Regions from separate parts of the Homo sapiens genome. Here all the other regions are linked to region 3. Evidence: fine-mapped expression QTL. A gene starts in region 3. Each other region holds a variant in brackets. All regions are shown on one strand. Distances are between the middles of the regions.

Region 1 (2,851 bases), 43 kb after region 3:
CCTTAAATATTGTACCGTATGCTTCTTGCTTGCTTCATCCTACTGCCAGCCTTCATGGAGTAACTGGAACTCTCATATACCGCTGGTGGGAATTTAAAGTGCTACAACCCCTTTGGAAAAAAGTTTGGCAGTTTCTTAAAAAGCTAAACATACTTCTGATCTGTCATGTAAGGAGCTTGGAAGTTGTCACTTCCGTTCTCACAACAAAAAACCTTAGCAAACTGAAAATCAACAACTGAGAAGCACCTGTGAAGGTCGCAGCCCAGGGGCACAGGCTCACTAAGACTGAAACCTAATCATAAGATCATAGAATGCTTCCCCTCCCTTCACGCATTACCACCACATCAGTGGGGTGCTTGAATAATGAGAATACAACGGAAAGGACTACATGTCTCAGACCTTATTTAAGAGGTCTGCAGGGAAACCTGAAGATAGTAGGAGAGGTGAAAAACAAGGACACAAGTGGAAATTTTAGCCTCTGACACCTGCAGCTATAGCAATCAGTAAATAAAGCCTAACTCTTAGCCAGATAAACAAAACTTCATACTAAAGGCCTATTTACCTCAGTTCTTTTTAACTTTGGTATATCATATCTGGCTTTCAGCAAAACATTACAGTGCATACCAGACAGAAAACACTGTTTAAACAGACAGATCAAGTATCAGAATCAGACTCAGATGCGGTTGTGATGTTGGAATGATCAAACTGGGAACTCAAAGTAACTATGTTTAATATACTAAGGGCTGTAGTGGAAAACATGGACAACATGCAAGAACAGATGTAAGCAGAGAGATGGAAACTAAGAATCAAAAGGAAATGCTACAAATCAAAGATAGTATAACAGAAATGAAGAATGCTTTTGATGAGTTCATTAATAGACTTGAAGTGGCAGGGGAAGAAATCAGTGAGCTTAAAGAAATGCTGATACAAACTTATAAAAATGTGTGGGATGCAAGGGAAGTAAGGCTTCAAGGAAGTCTTGCTTAAATAAGCACTGAAGGCTTCATTTAATGCTTAAGAAGAAAATTTAAAATTAATAATCCAAGCTTCTACCTTAGGAAGTTATCAAAAGAAGAGCAAATTTAATCCAAATTAAGCAGAAGAAAAGCAGTAATAAAAATTAGAGCAGAAATCAGGGAAATTGACAATAGCAAATCAGTAGAGAAAATCAACAAAAGCAAAAGCTGGTTCTTTG[T/C]GATCAATAAAACTGATAAACATTTAGCTAGATTAAGAAAAAAGAGAAGGCTGGGCATGGTGGCTCATGCCTGTAATCCCAGCACTTTGGGAGGCTGAGGTAGGTGGATCACCTGAGGCCAGGAGTTCGAGACCAGCCTGGCCAACATGATGAAACCCCATCTCTACTAAAAGTACAAAAATTAGCTGGGTATGGTGGTAGGCACCTGTCATCCCAGCTACTTGGGAGGCTGAGGCAAGAGAATCACGTGAACCTGGGAGGCGGAGGTTGCAGTGAGCTGAGATCGTGCCATTGCACTCCAGCCTGGGTGACAGAGCAAGACTCTGTCTCAAAAAAAAAAAAAAAAAAAAAGAGAAGATATAAGCTACTAGTATCAAAAATGAAAGAGGGGCTGTTTCTACTGATCCTGCAGACATTAAAAGGATAATAAGAGAATATTGTGAACAGTTCTATGCCCAGAAATTTGATAGCCTAGGTGAAATGGACCAATTTATTTTGAAAGACACAATTTACCAAAGCTTACACAACAAGAAATAAATATTCTGAATAGGCCTATATTTATTAAAGAAATTGAATCAATCATACTGCTCAAAGCAGAAATCACCAGGCCCAGATGGGTTCCTTGGTGAATTCTACCAAACATTTCAGTAGGAAATTATACCAATTATTTATAATCTATTTCAGGAAATAGAAGCTAAGGACATACTTACTAATGCATTTGGTGAGGCTGTCATGAAGCTAATACTAAAATCAGACAAAAGCATTATAAGGAAAGAAAACTTTAGACCTCTTGTGTGTTTTTTTGTTTTTTGTTTTTTTTTTTTTTGAGACAAGGTCACGCTCTGTTGCCCAGGCTGGAGTGCGGTGGCAGGATCACAGCTCACTGCAGCCTCAACCTCCCGGCTCGAGCAATCCTCCCATCTCAGCAACCCCCAAGTAGCTGGGACTGCAGGCGAGCACCACCACAACACCACGCCTGGCTAATTTTTGCATATTTTGTAGTGACGGGGTTTTGCCATGTTGTCCAGGCTGGTCTCAAACTCCTCAATTCAAGCAGTCTGCCCGTGTTGGCTATTCATTATTTTTAAAAAAAGAACTCTTAGCAAACTAGGAACAGGAAGAAATTTCCTTAACTTGATAAAGAATGTACCGGGCGTGTCGGCTCACGCCTGTAATCCCAGCACTTCGGCAGGATGCTTGAGGCCAGGACTTGAGACCAGCCTGGCCAACGTGGTGAAACTCATCTCTACTAAAAACACAAAATTTAGCTGGGCATGGTGGCGCATGCCTGTAATCCCAGCTATGTAATTGCCAATGGGTTCACCTTGCCTGCTGCTGGCTAGGCAGCTGATTTATTGAGACAGGGGAATTTCAATAGAGAATGAATAATCCACACAGAGCTGGCTGTGTGGGAGACTAGAGTTTTGTTATTACTCAAATCAGTCTCCCCGAGCATTCGAGGATCAGAGTTTTTAAGGACAACTTGGTGGGTAAGGGGAATCCAGTGAGCCGGCAGTGCTGATTGGTCAGGTCAGCGATGATATCATAGGGAGAAGCCATCTCCATGTGCTGAGTCAGTTCCTGGGTGGGGCCAACAAGATCAAATGAGGCAGTTTATTGATCTGGGTGGTACCAGCTGATCCGTCGAGTACAGGG
Region 2 (2,851 bases), 32 kb after region 3:
CGAGGTGACATACATCCTCATTTTACGAAGATGATGGGATTAAGAGATTAAAATAAAGACAGGCATAGGAAATCATAAGATTGTTGATTGGGGAAGTGATAAATGTCCGTGAAATCTTCACGATTTATGTTCAGAGATTGCAGTAAAGACAGGCGTAAGAAATTATAAAAGTATTAATTTGGAGAACTAACAAATGTCCATGAAATTTTCACAATTTATGTTCTTCTGCCATGGCTTCAGCCAGTCCCTCGGTTCGGGGTCCCTGACTTCCCGCAACACATATCTGTGACTATTGATGCAAAAAATCTTCAATAAAAATACTAGCAAACCAAATTCAACAACAATTAAAAATATTATTCATCATGACCAAGTGGGATTTATTTCAGGAATGTAGATAGTTCAACATGTGCAAAGGTGATACATCATATCAAGAGAATGAAGGAGAAAAAACATATCAATTGATTCTTAAAAAGCATGTCATAAAATTAAACATCCTTTCATAATAAAAACCCTCAAAACTGGGTATAGAAGGAACATTCCTCAAAACAGTAAAAGCCATGTATGACAGACCCATAGCTGTTATCACACTGAATGAGGAAAAACTGAAAGCCCTTCTTCTAAGATCTGAAACACAGCAAGGATGCCCACTTTCACTACAGTTATTCAACGTAGTATTGGAAGTCCTAGCCGGAGCAGTCAGACAGGAGAAAGAAAGAAAGCATCCAAATTGGAAAGGAAGGAGTCAAATTATCCTTGTTTGTAGATTATATGATCTTATGTTTGGATAAACCTAAAGAATTCATCAAAAAATGATTAGAAGTGATAGATTCAGTAAAGTTGCAGGATACAAAATCAGCATACAAAAATCAGTATCATTTACATATGCCAACACTGAACAATGTGAAAAAGAAATCAAGAAAGTAACAACAGCTAGATTTACAACAGCTAGAAATAAAATACCTGGGAGTTAACCAAAAAAGTGAAAAGTCTCTACAGTGAAAGCTATAAAATGTTGGTTCAAGAAATTGAAGGCAAACACACACACAAAGGAAAGATATTCTGTGTTCATGGATTGGAAGAATCAATATTGTTAAAATGTCCATACTAACCAAAGCAATCTACAGATTCAGTGTATTCCCTATCAAAATACCAATTAAATTCTTCAGAGAAATAGAAAAAACAATCTTGAAATTTATATAGAACCACAAAAGACTTGGAATAAACAAAGCTATCCTATGCAAAAAAAAGAAAATTGGAAGAACCGCATGATGTGATTTCAAATTATACAACGTATTGGCATATAACCAGACACATAGAACAGTGGAACCAAGTAGAGAACCCAGAAATAAATCCATTCATCTACAGTGATCTCATTCTTAACAAAGGACAATCTTGGGGAAAAGGACAGTCTCTTCAATAAATTGTGCTGGGAAAACTAGATATCCATGGATAGAACAATGAAACTGGACCCTATTTC[G/A]CCATATACAAAAATAAAATGGATGCAAGACTTAAATCTAAGACTTCAAACTATGAAACAACGAAAAGAAAGCCTTGGGGAAAATGTCCAGGTCATTGAAGTGAGCAAGGATTTCTTGAATAAATACCCCACAAGCACAGGCAACCAAAGCAAAAATGAACAAATGGAATCACATCAAGTTACAAAGCTTCTGCACAGCAAAGGAAACAACAAAGTGAGGAGACATCCCACAGAATGGGAGGAAAATATTTGCAAACTACCCATCTGACAAGGGATTAATAACAAGAATATATAGGGAGCTCAAACAACCTTATAGATAAAAATCCAATATGTTGATTAAAAGATGGGCAAAATATCTGAATAGATATTACTCAAGAGAAAACATGCAAATGGCACATGGGTGTATTTATCATCAGAGGAATGCAAATCAGAAGTACAATGAGCTATCTCACCCCAGTTAAAATGGCATTTATCCAAAAGACAGGCATTAAGAAGTGCTTGCGAAGATGTGGAGAATAGGGAACCCTCATACGGTTAGTGGTAATGTAAATTAGTACAATCACCGTGGAGAGCAGTTTGGAGGTCCCTCGAAAAACTGAAAACGGAGCTGTATGATCCAGCATTCCCACTCCTAAGAATATACAATAAATGAAATCAGTATATTGAAGAGATATCCATATTTATTGCAGCAGTATTCACAATAGCCTCGATTTGGAACAGCTGAAATGTCCATCAACAGACGAATGAGTAAAGAAAATGTGGTACATATACACAATAGAGAACTATTCAGCCATAGAAAAGGATGAGATCTTGTCATTTGCAACAGATGGATGGAAGTGGAGGTCACTATGTAAGCCAGGCACAGAATGAGAAACTTCACATGTTCTCCCTTATTTGTGGGAGCTAAAAATGAAAATAATTGAAACTCGAGTGATGGTTACCAGAGGCCTGGAAGGATAAGTGTGGGGGAAGGGGGCCTGGAGGAGAAGGTAGTGGTGGTTAATAGGTACAGAAAAATAGAAAGAATGAATAAGACCTAGTATTTGCTTGCCTAACAGGGTGATTAGAGTAAAAAGTCATTTTTATTGTACATTTTAAAATAACTAAAAGTATAATTTGATAGTAACACAAAGGATAAATACCTACTGTGTACTCACAAAAATTGAAAAAGTTTCAAAAATGTTTTTTGCTGTTTTATTTGATTAATGAGAAAGTTAACATGGTCAATCTTAAATGTAGAATTGTCTTTATCACTTAGTACAGTGTTTCTGTGTTGTACAGTGTTTCTTACCCTTTAGATAAGTATGTGTATTATCCTTTAGATAAAGATACATGTTTATCTCTCTTAAATATGTGTAAACTTTTATACAGAAA
Region 3 (2,500 bases):
AAGTACTCTTTTAGCTATTCTGGAATATTAAATACATTGTTATTAACTGTGGTCATCGTGCTGTGCAATAGATCACTAAAATTTATTCCTCCTACCTGAAACTTTATACCCTTTGACTCACATTTCCCCTTTCCTCATCACCCTTTACCCCCCAGTCTTTGGTAACCACCATTCTACTCTGCTTCTATGTAAACTCATCTGGTTTTATAAGTGATCAGGGATTTAAGAGGACTTCACTCTTTTACAGTTAAATTTATTTCATATTGGGGAATGATTTTCTCACTTTGTTTCTTACATAATTTTAGAGGATTGAACTTAGAAAAATATAATGTAAGAGTTTTCTCTCAACTATTTTTGATGCTTCCTTACTTTTTGTCCTCTTTCCCCAACTTTAGCTCTTTGGTGGGGAAAATATTATTTCATAAAAGTTATGTTTGCAGTTTTCAAAGTGACTTCTTAGAAGTGAAACTTGGATCAACATTTTTTTCAACCCCCCAACTATAAGAGTTACATTTTCACTTTTGATTTGTTAAAACATACTATGTCTTATAAATGCTTGAAATTTATTTTTAGGCAAGAATTTCAACATTGAATAAAATCTTCCCAAAATTAAGTCACAAGCACTCAAAGGATTGAGGATCTTTTTCTTCCTAAAATATATGTGTGTGTGTGTGTGTGTGTGTGTCTTTATATTTATATACTAAGACCTTCCCTTTCTTGTGGACTGTGTTTTATTGGTTTAAAGTTGCAAGTCCTGTGAAACCAGGCTGAAGTCAGAATTAGAAGGTATTAATTATCATACACACTCCAAGTATCTCAGTCAAGTAACAGGAATAACTGATTACAGTGTCTGGGAGGAAGGCCTGGAACTTGGGGAAGACTTGGAGGGGAGGACTGGATGGGGAAAAGGCCTCAATAGAGAGAACTGGGTTGTTGCGGAGGGGTGACCTTTAACCTTTGGAAGGGCATTTACTAGGGAACAGCTGAAAAGCATTTACTTCGAGGGGGTGGGGGAGAGGAGGAATCTCGTGGAAGTATTTGCTTTAATAGGTCCCGGGTGATTTAGGGATGTTTCGAGTCGGTTGGTCTTGGGGGTGGCGAGGGCTACGCTGGAGGGGTCGCGTCCCAGTCCCGGGGAAGGCGGCAGGAGGTTTTCTGGGTGTTCCTGAAAACTGGGAGTTGGGGGGAAGGGTGGTGGGGAAAGTGGAATTCAGCGTGGATTTGTCTGCGTGTAGGACTATTAGAGGAGGCGCAGGGGAGCCACGCGGTGTATTCCCCGCCCCGAGAGAACTCTGGCTGCGCCTGCGACGGGCACGCCGGCCTGCGCCAAGGCCGCTTTCCCCAGGCGGCGGGCGCTCCCCCCGGCCCGGGCCGCGGCCCTCCCGCCCCGGCGGAGCCGCGCGGTGGATTGTGGGCTGGGGGCTGCGGCGGCCTCCGGCGCTGTCTCCCCGCACCCGACCGGGCCGAGCCGGCTGGGCCGGCGGGGTGAGGGAAAGCAGTGGAGTCGGGAGCAGAAGCGCTAGAGGCAGTGGTCGTGGCGCGGCGGCGGCGGCTCCCCTGGAGGCCGGGGATGTGGGAGAGGCGGTGGCAGCAGCGGCGGAGGCGGCGCTGCGGACCCGGGGGAAACTGCTGGCTGACAGGACACCCGGGAGAGACGTGAGGGAGCCGCCGCTGCCACCTCTCACCCCTGAGTGAAGCTGGGCTCGAGAGGGCGGCCCTGTGCTCCCCGGGCCGACTGGCCAGCGGGCGCGGGGCGGGGGCGGGAACCCGGGCTCGGGCCCGGCCGGGCGCCGGGCGGCGGCGGCCGTGGAGCAGCAGCCTCGGTGCGACGTGGAGGGCTGGAGGCGGCGGCGATGCACTAGGCCTCGCTCAGGGCGGCTGCCCCGGGACCCGCAGGTAGGTGTGCCCCGCGGCCCCCCGCGCGTCTCAGCCCACTCTCACCCCGACCTACAGCGGAGAGAGGGACCGAGACCCCACCCCCTCGGCTCTCCTCCCCAGCCCCAAACGGACCGAGTTTCGGTCACAGCTGACCGGCACTGAAGCTTCCATGCTCCTCTCCGCCACTTCCTTTTTTTTTTTTTTTTTTCCTTTTCACTCTCCCTCCGGGATCGGGGCTGGCAGCTGTGTTCCCTGCCTCCTGTCAGCGACCGCAAACGCCGCTCTTGCCCCTCTCTTATCTTTCCGGGATCCCAGCTCTGGAACTTCCATCACCCCCTTAGACGCTGCCCCCAAACTTTCCTTTTCTTTTTCCAGCCAGGCCCTTAGTCCTATTGGATTCTACTGGAATCGTTAAAACATTTGTTTGTTTTTCTCTCCGGGGAAGGCTAACCCAAAGAGTTACTCAGTATTTTGCATTTTGGCAATGTAGCTTGAAATAATTTGTGCAATAATTTTCTTCAGTTCTGCCTCCTTCCATCTCTGCATAGACAGAAAGGGCAGGCCCTCTCTGCCGTTTCTGCTCTCCCGTCGTTGACTTGGGAACTTTGGCTTGCCAATTATA

Evidence for each region. PIP is the estimated chance that this variant, and not a neighbour inherited with it, causes the effect.
Region 1: its variant is the best candidate, but not a certain one, in a credible set for the expression of VPS54 in blood mononuclear cells (TOPMed, PIP 0.88).
Region 2: its variant is the best candidate, but not a certain one, in a credible set for the expression of VPS54 in whole blood (TOPMed, PIP 0.68).

Annotation. Positions count from the first base shown.
Region 1 is chr2:63,975,521-63,978,371 of GRCh38, reverse strand. The region is part of intron 3 of VPS54 (VPS54 subunit of GARP complex); the gene reads left to right. Among named protein-coding and RNA genes, the nearest start is that of VPS54, 42 kb to the left of the region's middle. The variant T/C (reference allele first, on the strand shown) is at 1,196.
Region 2 is chr2:63,985,872-63,988,722 of GRCh38, reverse strand. All of the region lies in intron 1 of VPS54 (VPS54 subunit of GARP complex), which reads left to right. Among named protein-coding and RNA genes, the nearest start is that of VPS54, 32 kb to the left of the region's middle. The variant G/A (reference allele first, on the strand shown) is at 1,478.
Region 3 is chr2:64,018,334-64,020,833 of GRCh38, reverse strand. It overlaps VPS54 (VPS54 subunit of GARP complex), which reads left to right and starts at 1,406. Exons shown (of 23, transcript NM_016516.3): 1 at 1,406-1,896. RefSeq lists a silencer at 1,283-1,992 and an enhancer at 2,153-2,222.